Linked DNA regions of Homo sapiens. The protein of the gene in region 1 purifies or fractionates together with the protein of each later gene. This does not show direct contact. Each region holds a gene or a part of one and is shown on either strand. Other genes may lie near its edges.

Region 1 (7,445 bases):
GAAGCTGTATATGGTAATATGTTCCATATCCCTCCTAGTTTCTGGTAGCTTGTTGGCAATCCTTGGCACTCCTTATCTTGTAGATGCATCATCCTGATCTCTGCCTATGTGATCACATGGTGTTCTCCCTCTGTATGTATCCATATCCAAATTTCCTCTTTTTATAAGGACACTGGTCATATTGGATTAAGGACCCTTTCTACCCCAGCAGGACTTCATTGTAGCTTGACTAATTATATTTGCAATGAGTATATTTCCAGATGAGGTTACATTTTGAGGTACTGGGGGTTGGGACTTCAACACTGGAATTTAAGAGGACACCATTCAACCCATAACAACCCGTAAACTTGTCCCCCAGTTAGATGCTTTCGTCTTTCAGCCTCCTTTCTTTGTTCTTGGTCCTACCAGTTTGGAATCAAGACCATGTTGGAGACAGAAGAAGGAATCCTACTGCTGGTCAGAGCCATGGATCCTGCTGTTCCCAACATGATGATTGATGCAGCTAAGCTGCTTTCTGCTCTTTGTATTCTACCGCAGCCAGAGGACATGTATGTGACTGGAATAATTTTTCTTCTCCATTTTCAATTTTATCATTTTCTCTTAGTTCAGAGGACAATTGAGTTGGTTGGGTGTCCTCTCGGTCATAAATACTAGGTAAGATTGTGTTTCTTCCCAGAAGTGAACACTAAGCATCTTAAAATTTAAGAACAATTCCTAAGTGATGGGTGCTATCCTGAATGTTCCACTGGTCATCAGAGGTATAGCAAAATGTCTCCTATATCTCCATTAATATCTGTATTGTCTAGGATGAGGGTTTCTTTTTACTATTCTTTTTTTTTTTAATTCAGAAGTGGCACAATGTTATTTTTAAAACTCAAACGATATAGAAGTATATAAAGTAAAATTTAACTGCCTCATCCCTTTGCCAAATCCTATTCTGCAAAGAGAATGACTGTTAATGGCATGGTATAGTCTCATAGAACGTTTCCTAAGCATAGACAAACATATTGCGTTCCCTTGATTCTAGACATCTGCCACCGCAAAAGATAGTATCTTAAGAGCTGAGGAATGACACTTATGCCTATAAAACTAACTGCATATATAGGATAGATTTTTATTATTGAAGAGGGATTTGGTTTAACCAAAGCTAAATCATTCTTTTCAACCTGTTTCTTTTTAATAGTAGATCTTGGACATTTCTTCTATGTCGGTACTTACAGATCTACCTTATTATCTTTAGTAGCTATTTAGTATTCCATATACATGTATGTATGGCCTATAATTTATTTAACAATTCCCCTGTTGCTGGACTTACAGATTTTTTTTTTTTCCTTTTTTTTTTTTGAGACGGAGGCTCGCTCTGTTCCCCAGGCTGGAGTGCAGTGGCGCGATCTCGGCCCACTGCAAACTCCTCCTCCCAGGTTCAAGCGATTCTCCTTCCTCAGCCTCCCGAGTAGCTGGGACTACAGGAGTCCGCCACCACGCCTGGCTAATTTTTGTATTTTTAGTAGAGATGGGGTTTCTCCCTATTGGCCAGGCTGGTCTCGAACTCCTGACCTTGTGATCCGCCCGCCTCGGCCTCCCAAAGTGCTAGGATTACAAGCGTGAGCCACTGCGCCCAGCCAACTTACAGATATTTTTTAAAGCAGATTTCACTATCTGTTCTAGGTGATCATTTTTACAAATGATACTGCAGTGAACATCCTTGTGCATATCTTCTTTCACATTTATGCCCATATGTTGGATACATTTCTAGAAGTAGACTATATGTTACATGCATGAGAAATTGATTAGTACTGTTAAATGCCCCTCCAAAAGTTGTATCAATTTATACTTCATTGAATAGGGGACTTGATTTGGTATTTATGGACAGGAGCCTAGGGATGGATTGTAGGGAATGCATTTCCCTGAAGAGATGGTCCTTAGCTTTCAGCAGTTTCTGGAAACTGAGTGGTGAGAATAATAATGTGAGAAATCCGGAACACTGATAATGTCCTGTTTCCTAATCGGTCTGTGCCCCTGTGTAATTTACTCATTATACGTGTCCGTGTCACAGTACCTGGAAAGTTCTCTCCGTTTCCTTTCTCTTGGGCAGGAATGAAAGGGTTTTGGAGGCAATGACAGAAAGAGCTGAGATGGATGAAGTGGAACGTTTCCAGCCGCTGCTGGATGGATTAAAAAGTGGAACCACTATTGCACTGAAGGCATGTATATCCCCTGAAACTGGGCCCAAGAATAGAATTCAAGATGGACAGACTTAAATTCATTTGACCTTTTAATAAAATACATGGAGTGCCTCCCAACTATATATTTTACATTTCAGAATCTGTTATGAAGGGAAAATGATTAACCTTCTTTCTAAGAAGGTAAAGAATGAACTGTTTTCCTCATTATGAGATGGAAAAAGGCATGATATCTATTTACAATCTAGGAAAACCAAGACCTACAATAACATATACTCTCAAATCCTTGAAACCATTTAGAGTTTAGGCTCTCCGGATCTGTACTCAAACCAGGTCTCATTGCTATAGTAGAAAAGTCATCTTTAGAGTTTTTGTATTGTATCTTTCAGGTTGTATTGGGGACCTAAGAATGCATGTAAAGAAAATGGATTCTTGATCTCCAGGAGTTAGCATTGACATAGCTGCTGAATTTTCTTATTTTAGGTTGGATGCCTACAGCTGATCAATGCTCTCATCACACCAGCGGAGGAACTTGACTTCCGAGTTCACATCAGAAGTGAACTGATGCGTTTGGGGCTACATCAGGTGTTGCAGGTAAGATATTACACTTCATTAGAAAGGCTAGACTGGTTCCTTCTTGCTCTACAGCCCCAATAATCCCGGGGATAATTCTGGTTTTCAATTAAAAACCAGGTTGAAAAGCTTAGGTTTCTAACCACAGAGGATACTTTTGGGTTCCCTGACTTCTACTTTTGTTGTTGACAGGACCTTCGAGAGATTGAAAATGAAGATATGAGAGTGCAACTAAATGTGTTTGATGAACAAGGGGAAGAGGATTCCTATGACCTGAAGGGACGGCTGGATGACATTCGCATGGAGATGGAATATCCTTTTGCTGACTAGGTTCAAGGCAGATGAGACATTCATTGTATTTAGTTCCCTGATCCCTGTGTGGAATGGTTTGGGAGATGATGACTCAGAACAGAGCATCAGGCTTATGTGTCTTCTCATTAAATAAGGCAGGTGTATTTTTATTGCGCTGGCTTTACTTAGCTTATCATAGATCAGGGAAGTCAGTAAAGGTGATCTGAGGGTTGTTGAGCATGGAAGCCATCAAAATCAGTGTAAACTTCCTAGAATGTGATAGCTTAGCTTACTAAGATGTAGAACTGGCTTTTAGAGATGTTTGGACTGACAGAGGGAGTAATTTAGTTACCTGTTAATATTTTCAGTAAGTGACTTTGAGGCAGTTACCTCTTATTTTCTGTCTACTGCCTGATCTTCAAGCCAAGTACTTACTAGGAATCCTCTGTGTGTATAGTACCACCCAATTCACTGGTCCCTTAAAGGACGTTTTAGAAAGCTTAAAGTTTCTGGTGATGTTTACAGGAAGAACAGCCAGTAGAATGGAAGTGGTGTCTTGCTACTTTTCCCTAGCTTTTTCAAGAGTTAAATAAGCCACCTGTCAAACATAATTTCTGCATATTTGCTTTCCTTAGCCTATTTCCCTTTTCCACTGACTTTAATGAAGTCTTTCAGATTCTCTTAAACACAGTGAAGGATTCAAAGGCAGAGCCACACTTCCTTTCCATCCTGCAGCACTTACTCTTGGTCCGAAATGACTATGAGGCCAGGTAAGATGCTGTGCTTATGAGAAGTTTTGAATTTGAGCCTAAGTGGAGAGAGTGAATTCCTTAAATTCAAAGATTGTTCTGTAAAAGGAAAATGTAAAGACAAAGACCCAAGATTAGGGTTCATTAGTCACCGATATAAAGGAAGTTGTCTTATTTCTTTAATCCAACTCAAAGGCATCCCTATGGCAGAGGTCAGAGTGTATAAGGTGAAATGCCGTTCTGTTTTTGGAGGGGAGTAGGTAAATAGGATGAAGATGTTAGCAAACAGAAGTGGCAATTTAAAATTCTTTCTAGTTTCCTGGAAGTATAGATTTAGCAATAGCACTATCCATCACAGGAAGGATCAAACGCAAATTTTTAGATGGGAAAGTATTGGCACTAGGAGCGGATGGCAAGAAGTTTTGATTATTTGAAGTAGATAGGGTAGGGTAGCTGATGTGGAAAAAGGAGTTTTCTTAGCATGGCAGCAATACTTGTGTTAACTTTACAAAAGTTTTTCCAGGTCTCTCAGTTGTCAGAGCAATTACGTTTTCTTGGTCCTGAATACTTCTGAAAATTATATTTTGATTTTCCTTTGATGACCCTGTTTTTATTCTCTTGTAGACCTCAGTACTATAAGTTGATTGAAGAATGTATTTCCCAGATAGTTCTGCACAAGAACGGGGCTGATCCTGACTTCAAGTGCCGGCACCTCCAGATTGAGATTGAGGGATTAATTGGTAAGCATACTCTTCTATCTGGCTCCTCCAAGTATTGCTTCTTCCTTTCATTTTGCATCTTGTTTCAGTGAAAATGTCAGAGAAGATACCTTTCCAGTCCCCAGATAGTTCTATTTTTGTCCTTTCTTAGGTCATAACCAGCATCTTTGCTAGGAATCTATAGGTCTTTAGTTTATTTTTAGATAAAACACACACCAGCACCTTTTGCAGGAACTCCTGGTGGTCTCAGAGAGTCAAAAATATCACTCATAGGCATTCTTCTTGCCACCCAGCATGGTGGCCTTACCGCACACTCAGATTACATGTTGAACTTAACTGAAAGTTCCATTTCTTTGTCTAGTGCAGAACATTAAGAAAGATAATAAAAATGATCAAAAAGACTGTTCTTTGGAAGGGTGTAGTGTGAAAGAAATAGAACAAGAGAATTAGGAGCTTTACTTACTGACTCTTCTTCTTTTCAGATCAAATGATTGATAAGACAAAGGTGGAGAAATCTGAAGCCAAAGCTGCAGAGCTGGAAAAGAAGGTGCATATGAGAGACCAAAGACATGTGTTTGAGTATATCTTTCTTTGAGAATTATTATTTTCCTGATCTATGAGACAGTTTTCCTCTGTGGTATTTTGGAAGCGTTTAGCACCCAATAGTGTAGTTCCCAGGGGAAACCTTTCCAGTATAGGGTAGTCATTGGAGAAAGTGATATGGATGTCTTCATAGGGAGCTCTAGTGGTGGACTTTCAGTTCTTGGGCTACTGGGCAGGAAAAGAAAGACAGATGATACTCATGTAATAGTAATGGCACTCTCAGGTTTGCTTGGCATTTTAGGCCTCTTACCCCTAGAACAATAGGAACTGGGGTCCTTAGAGCAATAGAACTAGAGGATGTCTGAGTTCTCTTTTTCTCTTCAGTTTTTAAGAACGTTTATTGTGGTTAATAGGTTTTTGATCCTAGAGAATATTGGGATTGTACTACCATGGTCGTCCTCGTTAAATACCTTTAAAATCTTATTTTTTTTAACTATAAAAATAGGGAATCTGTGGAAATGAACTGATTCCCCTCTCCTTTAACCTTGTTTTATTTTCATTTTTATTTTTATTTGTTTTTTTTTTGAGACGGAGTCTCACTCTGTCATCCAGGCTGGAGTGCAGTGGCGCGATCTCGGCTCACTGCAACCTCTGTCTCCTGGGTTCAAGCAGTTCTCCTGCCTCAGCCTCCCAAGTAGCTGGGATTACAGGTGCCCACCACCATGCCCGGCTAATTTTTGTATTTTTGGTAGAGGCTAGGGTTCACCATGTTGGACAGGTTGGTCTCGAACTTCTGACCTCAGGTGATCCACCTGCCTCGGCCTCCCGAAGTGCTGGGATTACAGGTGTGAGCCACTCCGCCCAGCCAAACCTTGATTTTAAGGTCAGAATCATGGTGCTTTTTTCCCCCGAGCATGGCCTGGATTTATGAGCTCTGTAAATCAAGTACTGGCCCAGAACAGGAGGCAGTGGGGGGATTCCAGCACCCCCAGGCAAAAGAGGAGGTAGGGAGAATTATGGGTAATAATACTTGTGCTTCTTACTGAGATGGAGAGCTTGCTGGGAGCCTGATTCGTTTTTTCTCTAGTTGGACTCAGAGTTAACAGCCCGACATGAGCTACAGGTGGAAATGAAAAAGATGGAAAGTGACTTTGAGCAGAAGCTTCAAGATCTTCAGGGAGAAAAAGATGCACTGCATTCTGAAAAGCAGCAAATTGCCACAGAGAAACAGGACCTGGAAGCAGAGGTGTCCCAGCTCACAGGAGAGGTAATGCCTGAGCAGGGAAGGCAGAATGACCTGTAACCTCAGGATGCACATGGCTTGGAACAGGAGTCAGTCATCTCGCTCCTAGGGAGGGTTCAGCTACTAATAGGTAATCTAGTTACATGGTGCATATTTTAAAAATAATATACTGGTTTTTGGTTTGTGTTGGGGGTAAGTAATACATAAGACAGAAAATCTGGAAAATACAGAAAAACATTAAGAATAAAGTAAGTTTCATTACCACCCAGAAATAAAAGTAATAAGTCTCCTAATAAATTAGGAATAAAAACTAAACTGTTAAAAATTGACTAATTTCCTGTTATTTTAGTCACCTCTGCACAGATTTATCCTTACACACTCTCTCTGCAGTAGTAAATACTTAAATGATCTTTGATGTCTGATAACTTGATTACTTATGTGGTTATATAATCATCTGTGTAGCACATATATTAGTTATATAACTAGAACATTTAATTTACTTGACCTTTACATTTTCTAATCAAGGGAGGGTTTAACATAAAGGTTGAAATTGTCTTCTTAATACAAAGCATGCTGAACTAAGAACATGAAAACCTGAATTCTAGTTTTGGCTCTGCTGCCAAGCCGTGTGACTTTAGGTGATCATGTCATCTCTCTGACTCCTCTCAGTTCCTCCATTTGTAACATGAGAAGTTTGGATTAAGTAGTTTATTAGGTTCCTTCCAGTCCCAGTAGTCCCTGAAGTGGGGTGAGAAGTACTCACATTGATGTTATTTCTGTAGGTTGCCAAGCTGACAAAGGAACTGGAAGATGCCAAGAAAGAAATGGCTTCCCTCTCTGCGGCAGCTATTACTGTACCTCCTTCTGTTCCTAGTCGTGCTCCTGTTCCCCCTGCCCCTCCTTTACCTGGTGACTCTGGCACTATTATTCCACCACCACCTGCTCCTGGGGATAGTACCACTCCTCCTCCTCCTCCTCCTCCTCCTCCTCCTCCACCTCCTTTGCCTGGGGGTGTTTGCATCTCCTCACCCCCTTCTTTACCTGGAGGTACTGCTATCTCTCCACCCCCTCCTTTGTCTGGGGATGCTACCATCCCTCCACCCCCTCCTTTGCCTGAGGGTGTTGGCATCCCTTCACCCTCTTC
Region 2 (7,846 bases), on another chromosome or scaffold:
TGTAATTAAGAACCATACTTAAACGAGTACTTAATTTTAATGAATGGTATTTTTCATTTATATACAAAGGAATAGCCAGCAGCATTTAAATATAGAAATAGTCCCATCTCTTCTCTATTCCCTTTTATAAAGTGCCATTTTAATTGGGTAGATTTACTACCCAGATTTTCAGTAACTACAGGATAGGTATCTAATTGTCAAGAAAAGCTTGGAAAATTAAGTTTAGCATTTTAAACATTTGTAAAACATTGCTACAAGTCATAGAGACTACCAATGTATTAAAATAAAAAGTGTACCTTACATAAGAATCATTAAGTTGGTTTAATAATTACTTCACAGAAACATGGGCTCATGAATACTTAGGCCAATTTGTGCTAATTATTTAAACCAGAAACAGTTTCTGTAGGTAATTCAGCTCTAAGCACCATTAAATAGGGTTATGCCAAATAGAACAATGGTTAAATAATCCTCAGAATAAACACCCCAGCAAATTCAAACTTTTAGAATAGTAACAAAAGTTAGTGAGAATCCGAAAGAGAGGCAACATTTTATTGAAAACTATCATAGGCTGCTAAGTGTTCTCTTTAAATAAAATTTTGTGTAGTTATTAATGTACCTTAACACTGGTGTACCTTAATAGTGGTGTTAGAGATAGGTGGAAACCATACTACAGAAGTGAATGTTGCCTGTTTCTTTTGTTCAGTGATTAAAACTGAAATTGCTTTTAAAAAAATAATTTAACTGCTACTTACAATACACATAAAATACCAAGAAGATTCCCATTTTATTCACATTATTCTCTAATTAGTATTTTTGCATTTCAACTTTGATCTGACCTTCAGTAGTACCTTAAAATGCAAATGCAATTAGTAAAAACGGGGCAGCCTGTCGTTTTCACACTTAGAAATACAATGTAGTTTCATTACAGTTTGCATTTTTTTGTTACTCTTGAAAGAGTAACCCCTTATAAAATCAGATACATAAAAACTGCATTATTCCTTACTTTGCAGGCATCCAGGAATGGTTAAAGCAAAGGAACTCTCATTCATTAATTCATTCATTCTGTTCCCCCAATTTAGATACATTTCTAGTCTCCAGAAACGGACTCCAGGGCAGGGAAGTGGAGGGCAGAGAAGAGGTACAGGTCAAGGTATGATGAATCTCTGAAAAAGACATCCACTTTTCCCAGAAGGCTAGCCTGAAGAGAACTCCGCCCCATCCATTCCGATCCCTCAAGTAAGAATGCATAATTTAGCTTGTCCTTCTGGTCTCACTTCCTTACAACACCTAGTATTCAATTTATTAAGACAAATAAACCTTTGCATTTTCTAAAAGAAGCAATTTTTACCCAAATACATTGGACTTTGGTCTCAATGTGAAGGGCGAGTGGCCTTTAACAGGTCGTTCCTCCCCCACTCCCTCCTCCCCCCTGCCCTCCAGCGGCTGCTCTGGGTCCCTGAAAGAGGGTGTGGTGTGGACGATCTGGGTTCTGAATCGGATTTTGTTGAGTCTGGGTTTTATACGTCCACTAGAGCTGCCCGAGGCTTTGCGCCCTGGATCCTTGGCTTTGCCTCCGACCCACCCCTCAGCCGAGTGGTGATGGTGGTGATGGTCCCCTCCATCTTCTAGGGCGTGTGAGAGTTTGTAGGTGATGAGATGCGAGGGAAGCACCTTTGAAAGCCTCCAGCGCCCGCCGCCGCTACCCGCGGCGCTTTCCCCGTCACCCTCGTCCAGGGCTCCCACCAGGTTCTTGATCTCCTCGGCGATGCTCCGACTCAGGTACTGGGAGGCCTTTTTCCCACTGTAGTCCCTGATGTCCACATCGGCGTCGTAGGCCCCCACCAGCAGCTTCACCACCTCCACGTGGCCGTGCATGGCTGCCAAGTGCAGGGCGGTGTAACCCCCGCTCGTCCTGGCGTCGATGTTCACCGGCAGCTGGTGTTTGTTGGCGAAGTTGACTAGCATGGCCAGAAGCTCCTGCCTGCCGTGCTTGGCGGCCCAGTGCAGGCAAGTGAAGCCGGTAATGAAGTCCCGCTTGACCAGCAGGCCGGGCTCGCAGGTGAGCAAGCCCTCCAGGCTGTCCCACTTGCCATCGGAGGCAGAGAGCATCCACGCGTGCTCCAGGGGGTCCAGCGTCACGGAGCCTCCGCCGCTGCTCTCCTCCTCCGCGGACGACGAGGCCACCGATGCGCTGTCTGAGTCGCCCCCGCCTCTGCCGCGTCCTCCCCCGGAGGAGCTGCCCGGGCTGCTGCCCCCGGGACACACGCTCCTCTTCAGCTGCGGGGAGCTGCCCATCACCAGGTCACGGAGGTTCTGGCGGGCCGGCCTCTGTGCGGTAGCCCCCACAAGGGAGCTGCCCCTGTCCGCCTCCTCGCAGCCATGTGGCGGGAGCTCCAGGTCCTCGCTGGGCCCCGGGGCTGGAGTCCGCGGTAGGGGCTGCACGTCGCGCCGCGAGTTCTTCCTGCGAGCCCCGGCGCTCAGGGGCGGCCAGTGCGCGGGGGCGGGGGGCTCTCCCTCGCCCAGCTCGCGGCCCTGTCCAGGGAGCGACTCCGGGGCCGCCGCGTCGGGGAGCCGATCGCGCGCCTCGGGCCCGGCAGGGCCGTCGGGGGCCTCGGGCTCGGCGGTCACCTGGATTCGCGGCGGGTCCCCGGAGGGCTCGGACGGCCCTTCACAGAACCTCTTCTTGAGGTGCACGTACTTGGCGCCGTCGGCGGGATCGACGCGCACAGTGGCCACGGCGTTCACCAGCTCCTTGAAGTGCGCGCGGGCGCGGGCGCGCTGCTCCGGTTCGCCGCCTAGGGCGCCCCTGAAGTGCTGCACCAGCTCGGCGTGCAGGGCCCGGCCCCCGCGCTCCGCCAGGAAGCGCAGCACCGCCTCGGGGCCCAGCGCCGCCTCGGGGCCCCACTCTGCCGGCCCCTCCATCCTCGACCGCGCTGCTCCCCCGCCAGCGGGCGGCTCAGCGCGGTCCCATAGCGACGGGCTCCCAGCGGCCGGCTCCCGACGGCGGCGGAGTCTGGCGGGCTCAGCGGGCTGCCAGCCTACGCGTCTGAGGCCAGAGGACTCGGCCACCGCCTCACTGGGCCGCGCCCGGGCGGACACGCCCCCCGCACCCCCGCCCCGCGCCCACGCCACCAGGCCACGCCCACTTCCGCTCCCCGCTGTCTCGGCCACACCTACCTAGGGCGGCCTCGCCTCAAGGCCCGCCCACTTCCGGCCTCGCGAGGGCCGCAATCACTGCTCCGCAGTTCCCGCCTGCATTCCTCGCGCCGTCTTCCTGGAGTCCCAGCTCTCCTTCAGCCCGCCCCAACGCTGACGCTCAGTCCTCAGGCGTCGAGGGTAGCTCCTGTGAGGGGCTCGCTTGGCGCAGGCAAAACGCTCAGCGCGCACCACAGGGCGTCCGCCCCAACCCCGCCCCCGGAGGCCTCCAGCTCGGCCCCGCCCCTGTCCCTTCCCCGTCGCGGAGGCAGCCTAGCCTCGCGCCCCGCCCGTTGCTTCTGCCCTCCGGCCTTCCCGCCGCCGTCGCCGGGACCAGCCGCTCGGGGCCGGGCTGATACAGCCGCTTCACCGTGCCCCTGCCCGCGACCATGGCCTCCTCCGAGGTGGCGCGGCACCTGGTGAGTCCCGCCGACGCCGGGGCCCCAGCCCCGCGCTCCCCGGCCCCCGCGGGACTTCCCGCCCTCGACCCACCGGCCCCCTGGTCCGGCCCGGGATTGTGACCCGCGCCCCCTCCGGCCCCGCCCGCCCAGTGCTCCCCGGCTTCCGCGGCGGCCGGGCGCCTGGGGCGGGAGAGGAGCCTCTGCGGAGCCTGGGCGCGGCCGGACCCCGGTTCGCGGGGCGCGGCGCCAGCGTCGGGACGGTGGGAGAGTTCTTGAACGACTTCCCGGTCTTTGCCAAAAGTTACATCCACAGCGGTGTTTGTGGGTCTCTTACGGCTATAACGGAGTTGAAGGCGCAGTGCGGACTGATTGAATAGCGGTCATCTTTTGCAGCCGTGAGCACTTCCGAGCCTCCCTGCCGCCGGGAGAAAGCCCGGCTCCCCTGGCTTTTCAAAAGCTCTCCCGTTTTATCCGATGGTGTGGTCGTCCAAGTTTTCCTCCATTGGGATTTTAAACCGTTTTTTTCCCGCCTTGACTCTTTTGTACTCTAAAAGAACGCGTTTGTTCACTGTTTTGAACCTTTCCAGTTACTTTTGTAGATTTATCTCGCTTGTTAGTAAGCCAGCGGTTTTCCAAGTGTGGTTACAACTATTTTCGTTAATAGTACCAAGGTCGTGTACATCGAGTTTTCCAAAGGCTACATGGTATGGAGTGATCTCACCGCCGTTTGGAGGCCCGATGCCTGTGTATTCTTAAAAACAAATTCTCCCTTTTAATTTTTGATAGTAAACATTGGTGGTTTTCATCTGTGTAAACAAAAGCTCTTTGGAGGCTGGAGACCAAAAAGTTTGAGAACCACTCTACTAAGCAACCTCCTACATGAGAAGTTTAAATTGTAGAAACAGTTCAGATTGCAGGCTGAGAGATTAGAGGATCCGTCCAAAGTGACACCGTTGGTTTGTTTTATAGAACCTGGACAAAGATTTTTCTCCCTGATTCAGCCCAGGTCTCTTTTCATTCTATCGCGTATTTTTTAAAAATCTCAAATTTTCTGTCTGGACCCCCTTGTCTCAGTTGCTGTGTTTGTGTGCATGTGTGAGTGAGGGAAAATTGAGGGGTCCTGGTGAGGAAAATGTGTTTTATAAATTCTTTGATTCATAGATTACGTATCCAAACAAGCTTGAGCAGAAGAGAACACTTCATTTAGCTGATGTTAGATTTATTTTTAATTGTACTTAATTTGCTTTGAGGCTAACTTTACTTATTTTCGAATTAAACTGTATTTTGCGTTAATTGTAGATTAATATGCAGTTGTAAGAAATAATACAGTATAGTGAGAACCCTGTACCCTTTATCCACCTTTCCACAATAAGATCTGGCAAACCCATAGTACGATATCACAACCAGCATATTGTCATTGATTGATACAGTGAAGATAAAGGATGTTCCCAGGACCAGGAGGATCCCTTAATGCCTTTTTATAACCACACACACTTCTTTCCTGCCCTGCCTCCTTCTTAACCCCAGACAATCAGTGATTCGTTTTTATTCTTATAATTTTGTCATTCCAAGACTTATATAATGGAATCACCCAGTTAGTAACCTTTTGAGATTGGATTTTTTTTTTTTCAACTCAGCAAAGTTCTGGAGATTCATCCAGGTTGTTGCATATATCTGCAGTTTGCTGGGGTAGTATTCCATGGTATGATTGTGCCACAGTTTGAAGGATATCTAGGTTGTTTTCAGTTGTTGGCTATTGGCAATAAAGCTGCTATAAACATTCATGTACAGTAACTCATAATGTAAGCATAAGTCTTCAGTTCTTTGGGATAGATGCCCAGGAATACAATTGTTGGGTCATATGGTAGTTGCATGCTTAGTTTTGTAAGAAACTGCCAGACTTTCTCAGAATGGCTGTATTATTTTGCATCCCTACCAGGAAAGTATGAGAGGTCCAGTTTCTGCACATCCTTACCAGCATTTGGTGGTGTCCTTATTTTTAATTTAGCCATTCTTATAGGTATATAGTGACACCTCATGGTGATTTTAACTTGGATTTCTCGTATTGTCACCCAGGCTAGAGTGCAGTGGTGCCAAGATGGCTCACTTCAACCTCAGCCTCAATCTCCTGGGCTCAAGCGATCCTCCTGCCTCAGCCACCCCAAGTAGCTAGGACTATAGGTGTGCACCACCACAGCCGGCTAAATTTTTGTATTTTTTGTAGAGGCAGGGGTGTGACCATGTTGCCCAGGCTGGTCTCAAACTCCTGGGCTCAAGCGATCCTCCCGTCTCAGCCTCCCAACATGTTGCCTATTTTCTAGTTAGATTTTTTTTTTCTGTTGGGTTTAAAGTTTTTTAGGTATACTAGATTCCAGTCCTTTCTCAGATATGTGATTTGAAAATGTTCTCTTTCAGTCTGTAGTTTATCTTTTCATCTTCTAACAGGGTCTTTTGCAAAGCAAAAGTTTTCAGTTTTGTTGAAATTTATCATTATTTCCTTTTATGGATTGTGCTTTTGGTGTCAAGTTTAAGAACTCTTTGCCTAACCTTAGATCCCAAAGATTTTCTCTTATTTTTTTCCTAAAAGTTTTATAGTTTATGTTTTACATTTATGTTATGACCCATTTTGAGTTAATTTTTCTGTTAGGTGTCAGACTTAAGTTGAGGGCCATTTTTTGGCCTATGGATGTCCAGTTGCTCCAGCACCATTTGTTGAATAGGCTCCCTTTCCATTATTGAGTTGTTGATGCACTTTTGTCAAAAGTCAGTTGAGCATATTTGTGTGGGTCTGTTTCAGTCTGTTTCTGGGTTCTCCGTTAGCACGCAGTCTTGATTCCTGTAGCTGTGTAAGTCTGAAATAAGGTAGACTGATTTCTCCCACTTTATTCTTCTCTCCCCCAGATTTTTAGCTATTCTAGTTCTGTGCCTCTCTGTGTAAGTTTTAGAATCGTCTTATCTATATTTACAAATAATTTTGCTGGGATTCGAGAGGAATTACATTAAATGTTTATATCGATTTAGGGAGAATTGATAGCTTTACTATGTTGAGTCTTCTAACTCATGTACATAGTATTTCTCTTCATTTCTCTCTTTTTTTTTGAAGACGGAATGTCGCTTTGTCACCCAGGCTGGAGTTCAATAGCATGATCTCAGCTCACCGCAGCCTCCACCTCCCTGGTTCAAGCGATTCTCCTACCCCAGCCTCCTGAGTAGTTGGGATTACAGGCATGTGCCACCACGCCCGGCTAATTTTTTGTATTTTTAGTAGACACAGGGTTTCTCCATGTTGGTCAAGCTGGTCTTGAACTCCCAACCTCAGGTGATCCACCCGTCTCAGTCTCCCGAAGTGTTGGGATTACAGGCGTGAGCCACCATGCCCGGCCCAGACCTTTTTTTTAATAGAAGAGGATATTAAAATTCAGGGAAGTGGCTGGGCGCAGTGGCTCACACCTGTAATCCCAGCACTTTGGGAGGCCCAGATGGATGGATCATGAGGTCAAGAGATTGAGACCATCCTGGCCAACACCGTAAAACCCCATCTCTGCTAAAAATACAGGAAATTAGCTGGGCTTGGTGGCATGCGCCTGTAGTCCCAACTACTTGGGAGGCTGAGGCAGGAGGATCACTTGAACCTGAGAGGTGGAGGTTGCAGTAAGCTGAGATCGCGCCACTGCACTCCAGCCTGGCGACAGAGTGAGACTCTGTCTAAAAAAAAAAAAACACCTCAGGGAAGTTTAGTGTCTCGCTTAAGGAATCACAGCTAGTGATTGTGAGATCTGCTCTGTGTCATATTGTCCCTGCCATTATCTCCACCATGCTCCTTATTAGGAATTGCATCATTTTATGATTCAGGAGATCCTGGCTGTATAATTAGTTATTGTTGACTGAGATAGTGGATCTTGAAATAGTGTTGAGTACAGTCCACTGACTGCCTTTTCATCTCCCGAGAAACACAGCCATAATTTTCCACTTCTTCAGTTATCCTTACCTTTTAAGTGGTGACCAAATCTTTGCAATTCCTGTCCGCATTTGTCATTTCCTGTTTTAGCTACAATGCTTCTGAACTTTTTTTCTCATTCCTTCTCAGTTTTTCTTCAGTGAGGATAATTTTCGTATCTAAGAGGCTTCTCATTTGTTTTACTTTCTGTCTTGAAGTTGTGATTCTTAATTCTTTCTTGATCTTTTTTTTTTTTTTTTTTTGAGGCGGAGTCTTGCTCTGTCACCCAGGCTAGAGTGCAGTGGCGCGATCT
Region 3 (7,445 bases), on another chromosome or scaffold:
TTTTTCTGAGGTTCACGTTCTGGAGAAAGAAAATGACCAAAGCCCGGAGGCAGGCTTACTTGTGCTGACACAAGCCCCTCCTGTGCCTTTGACAGCTGTGGGTCTCGGAGGGTTACAGATGGAGCAGTCAGATCTCGTGGCATCTCTGAGTTAGTAACTTGAAATATGGTGTTATGAGCAAGGCCAGAAAGGGGCTGCTGTTTTTAAAAGATTTTAAAGAAGGGTATCTTCTGGATAACCAAAAGACATTCTTGTCCCATTTTCAGAATCTTCTGGGTAATTTAAGTGTTGCTATGTTTGCATTTAGTTCCTCTTGTTCAGGAAAAGCAACTAAATAAAACTTCTCTTAGCTGGCAACCCCAGCTTCCGGTCAGCATAGCCAAGAACAGGGAAGTGAGCAAAAGGGCCTCTGAGAAACAACAGGCTTGAGCCAAGCACCACTGAGCATTCTGTGCGAGGCCCAGGGGAAGGTGAGGAAGCAGCCGCTGGCCCTTAGGGATCTTGGCTGTGACAGGGTGAGGATGCATGAGAAGACACGGAGACAGCTGATTCTGCCCACGTGGCCGGCAGGGCTCCAGAGTGGAGTCGGGCTTTGGAGATGCTCAGAGTGGCCATGGCTGGTTAGAGAATCCTGGGCCTCGTGGCAGGGAGAAGGGTTAGAAGATTAGCTGAGCTGAAGCTTTTGGCAAGAATGGTTTTCCAGAGGGGAAGAGAGAGGGCGCGGTGAGGAAGGCTGGGAGGCCCTGCAGGCGTGTTCAGAGCTGCTGGAGACACCGGAAGAGCCCAAAGGCAGAGCAGCTGGGCATCCTTGTTAGATACGGCAGATAGGTGCTGGAGGGTGGCTGGCTTGGCACAGGGCAGGGTTCAGCCCAGACCGCGGTTTAGGTGAGCAGTGTCCTGGCCACGTCGCAGCAAGGAAGGAGCCGAGCCAGCCAGGGCTTCACACACAGCCCTGGGCTTCTGTAGAACCGCCCCCGCCTCTGCTCAACCTTTTTGCTGCTTTTTGCGGGGGTTTCCAGTCGCCTGCTTATCAGATTTCCCGGCCTGCAGCAAAGCAGGAGGGACTGTTGCTCCTGGAAGTAGGCACAGGGCCTCTGAGGAGTGATTTCAGAAGAAGCCACAGAAGATGGTGGCGGGGGTTGACCTTGGAAAGAAGGGGCTGGGGCCTTGTGGGAAATGTCTCTGACCCCACAGCAGCCCTGGGCCAACAATGGGTTAAATTAGGCCTGATAAGTTGGATTTAAGAAAGCAGGATTTTTAAAAAAGGCAGGAACTATGTGAACCGTGTTAAGGAAGTTTTCCTTAAAGTGGTTCAAGTTGGGATTGATTTTTGTGCTCAGTGGGGAGCTAGTTTGGGGGAGGGCTGGCCCCCAGAGATGCCAGATGGATGAGGTGTGACTGCCTCTGCTAATGGACCGTGAACGGTACCGGAACTTTTAACAGGGGCCCGAAAATTGGAAGTGGTGAAAAGCCAAATTTTGGGTGTTAACCGTTTATCATTTCCTGGTTTCAGCCACATTGTAAATCACCTTGTGAGGGCAAAATGCAAAGAGGTGACCCTGCACAAGGACGGGCCCCTGGGGGAGACAGTCCTGGAGTGCTACAACTGCGGCTGTCGCAACGTCTTCCTCCTCGGCTTCATCCCGGCCAAAGCTGACTCAGTGGTGGTGCTGCTGTGCAGGTGAGTGGTCCCCAGATGTCTCCTGGGGGTGACCTTTAAGCTCCAGCCGTCTCCTCACAAGCCTTGGCCCAGCCCAGCCCAGCCGTGGCTCTAACTCCAGGGAGTTGTCCTCCAAAGATGGTTTTTGCTGAAGGGTGAGGCATGAGAGCGTTTAGGCGCTGAGGCTTGTTAAGGAGTCGGCAGTGCCGTGTAACTCTTTTGGGGCGTTCTGGCTAAGTCATAAAAACAATTCTGTAAAAACAAAGTCTGTTCTGAGTTTTAAGAGTTCAGAGCTCAAGTGCACAGGGAGATGCGATTTATTACTAACAGTTTGAAGGTAATGTGATCACATAATAAAATGCAGGGCATGCCCCTTTGGGTGAAAGGTCAGCATGGGAGGGGGCCCTCCCTGCTCCGGGGCTTCAGGGACGGGAGCTGGTCCTCACGGCCCCCTCCCGCTCTGCAGGCAGCCCTGTGCCAGCCAGAGCAGCCTCAAGGACATCAACTGGGACAGCTCGCAGTGGCAGCCGCTGATCCAGGACCGCTGCTTCCTGTCCTGGCTGGTCAAGATCCCCTCCGAGCAGGAGCAGCTGCGGGCACGCCAGATCACGGCACAGCAGATCAACAAGCTGGAGGAGCTGTGGAAGGTGGGGCTGCCCAGCGGGCCGACCCGTGCCTTCGTGTGGTTTCTGGTTGCGGGGAGGGGAGTGTCTTCAGAGACGGCTTGACCCAGTGAGACCGCTGGAGATTCTCTGAAAGGAATTCAGGCAGACCTCTGCCACCTCTACGTGGAATGACCTCAGGGCACCTTGGTCACCTTCCATCCAGGCAGCCTTACCTGACCGAGAAGATCCTGGCCTTGGGGAAAGGAAAGCTCTGGCTGCTGGAATTTTTCTTGTCTTGCCGGGGTGAGGATGGGTGGTGGGAGGGGAAGAATGGGGCTGGCTGTGGGCAGACTTGTCCTGCAGAGCCTGAACCTGCCCAGACAGGTGGGCTGCGAGAATGTCCTGGGGAAATAGGTTGGTGTCGAGGTCGGCACAGTCAGCTGAGACAGAGGGGAGAGGAGAGGGTGCCGGGTCAAGTAGTGGGTGCCTGGCCCTCCTTCCACAGACAGCCCTCACTTTTCCCCACGGAAGCCTTTCTGTGCTTCCAGCTGTTTAGGATTTTGTGATAAAGTAGTTCTAATAACTAGGCTAGAAGTTTTCATTTGCCTCCCATTCAGTCAGAAATCTCACATAGGAAATGAAGTGCAAGTTAAAATATTTTTTTAAGCATTGTTCAGCCGGGTACCTTTCCACTTGGATTTTCCGGTTGCCAGATGATTTCATGATTCCCGTTTATATCTGAACAGCCCAGAAAATGTCCTGTCCCCACCAGCATGGCACTCACTGAGGGAGCTGGCCCCCAGGGGAAGAGCTGCGGGCCCATGTTGGTCTGGCTCAGGGTTAGCAGACGTGGGAGACAGGCCTCCCGGGCTGTGGACACAGCGAGAGAAACCGGTGGTCTTTGTGGCAGCCTGCGAGGCGGGTTAGCTGCTCTCGTTCACAAGCTGGGCATACTTGGAGGAAGCAGCTGGCTCTGAAGGTGCCCTCTGCTGTGGACAGTGTGTCAGGCTGGTGCCTGGGGCTTTGTAGGCAGGTTCACCCAAGTACCGGAACCCCGCTGGGGTGCGGAGCAGCAGCTGAGGCCCAGGCATGGGCCAGGCCGGTGTGCAGCTCCCTGTGTGGCATGGAGTTCCCGTTCCCAGGGTTCTCCTTGCAGGTGGGGCTGCGCCAGAACCCCTCCATGCCACCCACCGTGGCCCATTCTGAGAAGCGGCATGTGTGCTCCATCCCTCTGGTGCCTCTGCGCCCTCGTTCATTTGCATGTAGGGAAAAACAGGACGAGTGTGGCGCGGTGTTGTTGTCTTCTAGGAAAACCCTTCTGCCACGCTGGAGGACCTGGAGAAGCCGGGGGTGGACGAGGAGCCGCAGCATGTCCTCCTGCGGTACGAGGACGCCTACCAGTACCAGAACATATTCGGGCCCCTGGTCAAGCTGGAGGCCGACTACGACAAGAAGCTGAAGGAGTCCCAGGTGATGTGTGCGAGAGGGCTTGGCCTGGGGTGGGCTCTGGCTCTCACAGCTCTCTCCTCAGGCTTCCAGAGGGAGGTTTTCTCTCCAGGCTGTGGGAGCTGATGTGGGCTGCAGCCGCGACACCTGAGAGTTGGAACTTGCGGATCCGGGCCTGGCAGCCCGGTGGTCTGAGCCCCCGCCCTCAGATCTGACATCAGCCTCAGTGTTTTCTGTTTAAATCCAACACATCTTTCCCAGTGGGGTCCACAGCTTTGCCCACAGTTGCGAGAGTTAGACTCGGGCGTGATCCCTGTGAAGACCACATTTAGGCAACGGGAGCCCTGGAGCGCTGACCTCCCCTCCCTCCCTCCCCTCCTCTTTCTGTCCCTCCCTCCCCTCCTCTTTCTGTCCCTCCCTCCCCTCCTCTCTCTCTTCCTCCCTCCCACAGCAGCTGCTCCCTGGCCACGGAGGCCTCTGGTGTGCGGTGAAGCCTCCAGACGGGATTGGCCTGTGTGTGTTCCGGGGACTCCTAATGGCTTCTCTTTCAGATGTGCCCTTGGTGGCATTTGGGGCTGCAGGTGCCACTCACGGCGCCTGCTCTCACGGCAGAGGCTTGCTGTAGGGCCCGCCTCATGGGGCCTCGGGCATGTGGAGGCCAGGCCCGGGCCTGTGCTGGAGGCTAACCGGGGCTCTTGTTTTTCATGTGCTCAGACTCAAGATAACATCACTGTCAGGTGGGACCTGGGCCTTAACAAGAAGAGAATCGCCTACTTCACTTTGCCCAAGACTGACTCTGGTAATGAGGATTTAGTCATAATTTGGTTAAGAGGTGATTTTAAGTTTTAAAATATTTGTGACCATAAGTAGCATAAATTCCTAGTTCCACCCTTGTAAAGTGCCCCTTAATTTGAACTCTCCCTGGTGGAAGCGACGGCGTGGGTTAAAATGGCCACCTCTCTCACTTTTTTACCTCAAGACATGCGGCTCATGCAGGGGGATGAGATATGCCTGCGGTACAAAGGGGACCTTGCGCCCCTGTGGAAAGGGATCGGCCACGTCATCAAGGTCCCTGATAGTATCCTTCATGTGAAGAGGGTGTGGCCGGCTGGTGGGAGAGGAAAGTGGGGGCATCAGGTGGAGGCCACTGTGGATTTGATGCTCACTGCTGGGCCAGCATCTCATGCTCTGTGGTGGGTGCTGGTTGGCATCGCCCTCCACTGCTCTTAGGAGAATCACAGGGCCTTCACCTTCAGGGGACAGCTGGTTGTATGGTTGCTTCCCCTCTGCCCGAATGGTGATGTTGGTGATGCCACTTGTGTGGCGCGTCCCTGGGCTGACTCTGGAAGTTAATGTATGCCGCTTGTGTGGCACGTCCCTGGACTGACTCTGGAGGTTAATGTGGCTGCAGGAGCGCCTTACCTGGACGCTGACTCTGCACACGGAGGTTCCAGAAGCCAGTGGTCACATGCAGACCCTCTGAGCACACACTTGCTCCCAGGCCATGTTTGGGAATGTGCAGTGACCTCATGGTGATGCAGCCTGCCGGCCAGAGTGGGGCAGCTGTAAGGCACAGGTGCAGTCAGAGGCTTGGGTGGGGAGGAGTCCTGGGAGAAGACACCGCGGGTCAGACTCAGGCTGCCTCTTGGTGACTGGCCAATGCTGCTGGGGCCTGACCATTCAGCGGTGGCCTCCACAGGGGTAGGGAGAGTTGTCTCCCACACCCACCCTGGGCCTGACAAGCTCATCCTGAACACGTGAGACCGGTTTTGGGGCTCGGGGTCGAGGGAAGGGTGTTGCCTACCGGCCACAGCCTCCTGGAGGGCAGTTTGCTTGTGTATGTGGAGCCTTTTGCTTGGCCGTACTGGGAGGGGTGTTGTTTCTGTGGAACTGTGAGAAGAGCTGCTGTGGCCAAAGCTGGGTTCTGCGAGCTCTGCCTGCCCCTGCTGGCCACATGTGCAGGAGCTCCCGGTGAGGTCCTGGGGCCCAGGATGTGGCTGCTCCCTGCTGGTGAGCGCTGCTGGCTTCGCTGCCGCCCTCTGCGTCTCTGAAAGGGGCCTAGATGGGTGGCTGGGAGTGGCAAGGAGGAACTCCAGGCTGGCTGGGGGTGGGACACCGGCTCATGGTGAGGTAGAGTCTTTCTTCAAGGATGCTGTCCTTCTGGTCTCTGGTCTGGTGTTGGCTGCACGTTTTTAGCGTTTGGTGCAGAGCCAGCGGTGTCTTAAGTAACTAAATTTTAAAAACGCTGTTTAAAGAGCGTGTACCAAGGGTGGCCCAGAAAGGTCAGCCCGGCTTTTGACAAGGATGCAAACTTAACTCAGCACACAGATTATGGCGATGAGATCGCCATTGAGCTGCGGAGCAGCGTGGGTGCACCTGTGGAGGTGACTCACAACTTCCAGGTGGATTTTGTGTGGAAGTCGACCTCCTTTGACAGGTACGTCTTCTCCCATCACTGCCCCCTGTTCCCTGGTTGCCACCTGTGGCATCTTTATGAGCCCTCCCCGTCACTGTGGAGTGGGGTTCCCCACCCAGCTCTGCAAACTCAGGATGTCGGAGAGGCGGCCACAGCTGTGCGTGTCGCCAACCCCAAACCCTCCTCACAGGATGCAGAGCGCATTGAAAACGTTTGCCGTGGATGAGACCTCGGTGTCTGGCTACATCTACCACAAGCTGTTGGGCCACGAGGTGGAGGACGTAATCATCAAGTGCCAGCTGCCCAAGCGCTTCACGGCGCAGGGCCTCCCCGACCTCAACCACTCCCAGGTGCGCGCCGTCCTCAGCGCGCGGGGCCTCGCCCATGGGCCGGGACGCAAGCGGAGGCTGCCCCTAACGGCCGCTTGTATTGAAGGTTTATGCCGTGAAGACTGTGCTGCAAAGACCACTGAGCCTGATCCAGGGCCCGCCAGGCACGGGGAAGACGGTGACGTCGGCCACCATCGTCTACCACCTGGCCCGGCAAGGCAACGGGTAGGGCTGACACGGCCCTTGCGGGCAAGACCCGGGAGGGCTTTAGGGTGGCCAGATGGAAGGCCTGGTGCTGGGAGCCTTGGGCTCTGTCACACCGAAGAGAGCACGTGGCGGGTAGTGTCGCCATGGTGCCTACCGCTCTCTATGTGACATTATTCGTGTCAGCTCCAACCTTAGGATTGCATTTTAGTAACCAGGTCTGCTACTGGTTTAGAAAACTGGGGGCAGGGGGGGCATGGCTGCAGCAGCGTGAGTTCCGTGTGCGGCACTTTATAGTGTGGCGGGATGGTGCAAGTTCCAGCCTTGGCATTGCTTGCGGTGGGTAGAGCTGTGAAGCCTGGGCTGTCTGGATCTGAGCTCCTTCGGCATCGTGTCATTACTGCCTGTTAAAAATGTCAGGAGTTTAAGGCCAGCCTGAACAGGGTGAGACGTCTCTACAAAAAAAAAATTCAGAAATTAGCTGGGGGTAGTGGCGTGCACCTGTGGTCCCAGCTACTCAGGAGGCTGAGGTGGGAGGATTGCTTGAGCCCAGGATGTTGAGGCTGCAATTAGCTGAGATCACACCACTGCACTCCAGCCTGGGCAACAGAGCAAGACCCTGTCTCAAAAAACAGAGTCTTGGCTTACTACGTTCACCGAGCTTCCTCTGGGTAAGCACTGAGCTGCCCCAATGGTGTTGCAGGCCGGTGCTGGTGTGTGCTCCGAGCAACATCGCCGTGGACCAGCTAACGGAGAAGATCCACCAGACGGGGCTAAAGGTCGTG

The links. The genes of interacting proteins can lie anywhere in the genome.
Region 2: the proteins of DIAPH1 (region 1) and SOWAHC purify together in Homo sapiens (affinity purification with mass spectrometry; 2 studies listed by BioGRID and IntAct, with this or other methods). This does not show direct contact.
Region 3: the proteins of DIAPH1 (region 1) and UPF1 fractionate together in Homo sapiens (co-fractionation; 2 studies listed by BioGRID). This does not show direct contact.

The regions. Positions count from the first base shown.
Region 1 is NC_000005.10:141,573,847-141,581,291, reverse strand, and holds part of DIAPH1 (protein diaphanous homolog 1), read left to right. Parts: intron 1-408; coding exon 409-548; intron 549-2,095; coding exon 2,096-2,204; intron 2,205-2,666; coding exon 2,667-2,777; intron 2,778-2,948; coding exon 2,949-3,067; intron 3,068-3,700; coding exon 3,701-3,817; intron 3,818-4,420; coding exon 4,421-4,536; intron 4,537-4,997; coding exon 4,998-5,062; intron 5,063-6,145; coding exon 6,146-6,325; intron 6,326-7,083; coding exon 7,084-7,445. UniProt on the Homo sapiens protein: Actin nucleation and elongation factor required for the assembly of F-actin structures, such as actin cables and stress fibers. Binds to the barbed end of the actin filament and slows down actin polymerization and depolymerization.
Region 2 is NC_000002.12:109,609,566-109,617,411, reverse strand, and holds the start of SOWAHC (ankyrin repeat domain-containing protein SOWAHC), read right to left. Parts: upstream 3,049-7,846; 5' UTR 2,923-3,048; coding exon 1,345-2,922; 3' UTR 1-1,344. Other genes in the region: SEPTIN10 (septin-10), read left to right, coding at 3,585-3,614.
Region 3 is NC_000019.10:18,848,562-18,856,006, forward strand, and holds part of UPF1 (regulator of nonsense transcripts 1), read left to right. Parts: intron 1-1,513; coding exon 1,514-1,681; intron 1,682-2,126; coding exon 2,127-2,307; intron 2,308-3,573; coding exon 3,574-3,735; intron 3,736-4,425; coding exon 4,426-4,510; coding exon of another isoform or gene 4,511-4,543; intron 4,544-4,690; coding exon 4,691-4,789; intron 4,790-6,015; coding exon of another isoform or gene 6,016-6,039; coding exon 6,040-6,148; intron 6,149-6,317; coding exon 6,318-6,477; intron 6,478-6,562; coding exon 6,563-6,681; intron 6,682-7,363; coding exon 7,364-7,445. UniProt on the Homo sapiens protein: RNA-dependent helicase required for nonsense-mediated decay (NMD) of aberrant mRNAs containing premature stop codons and modulates the expression level of normal mRNAs.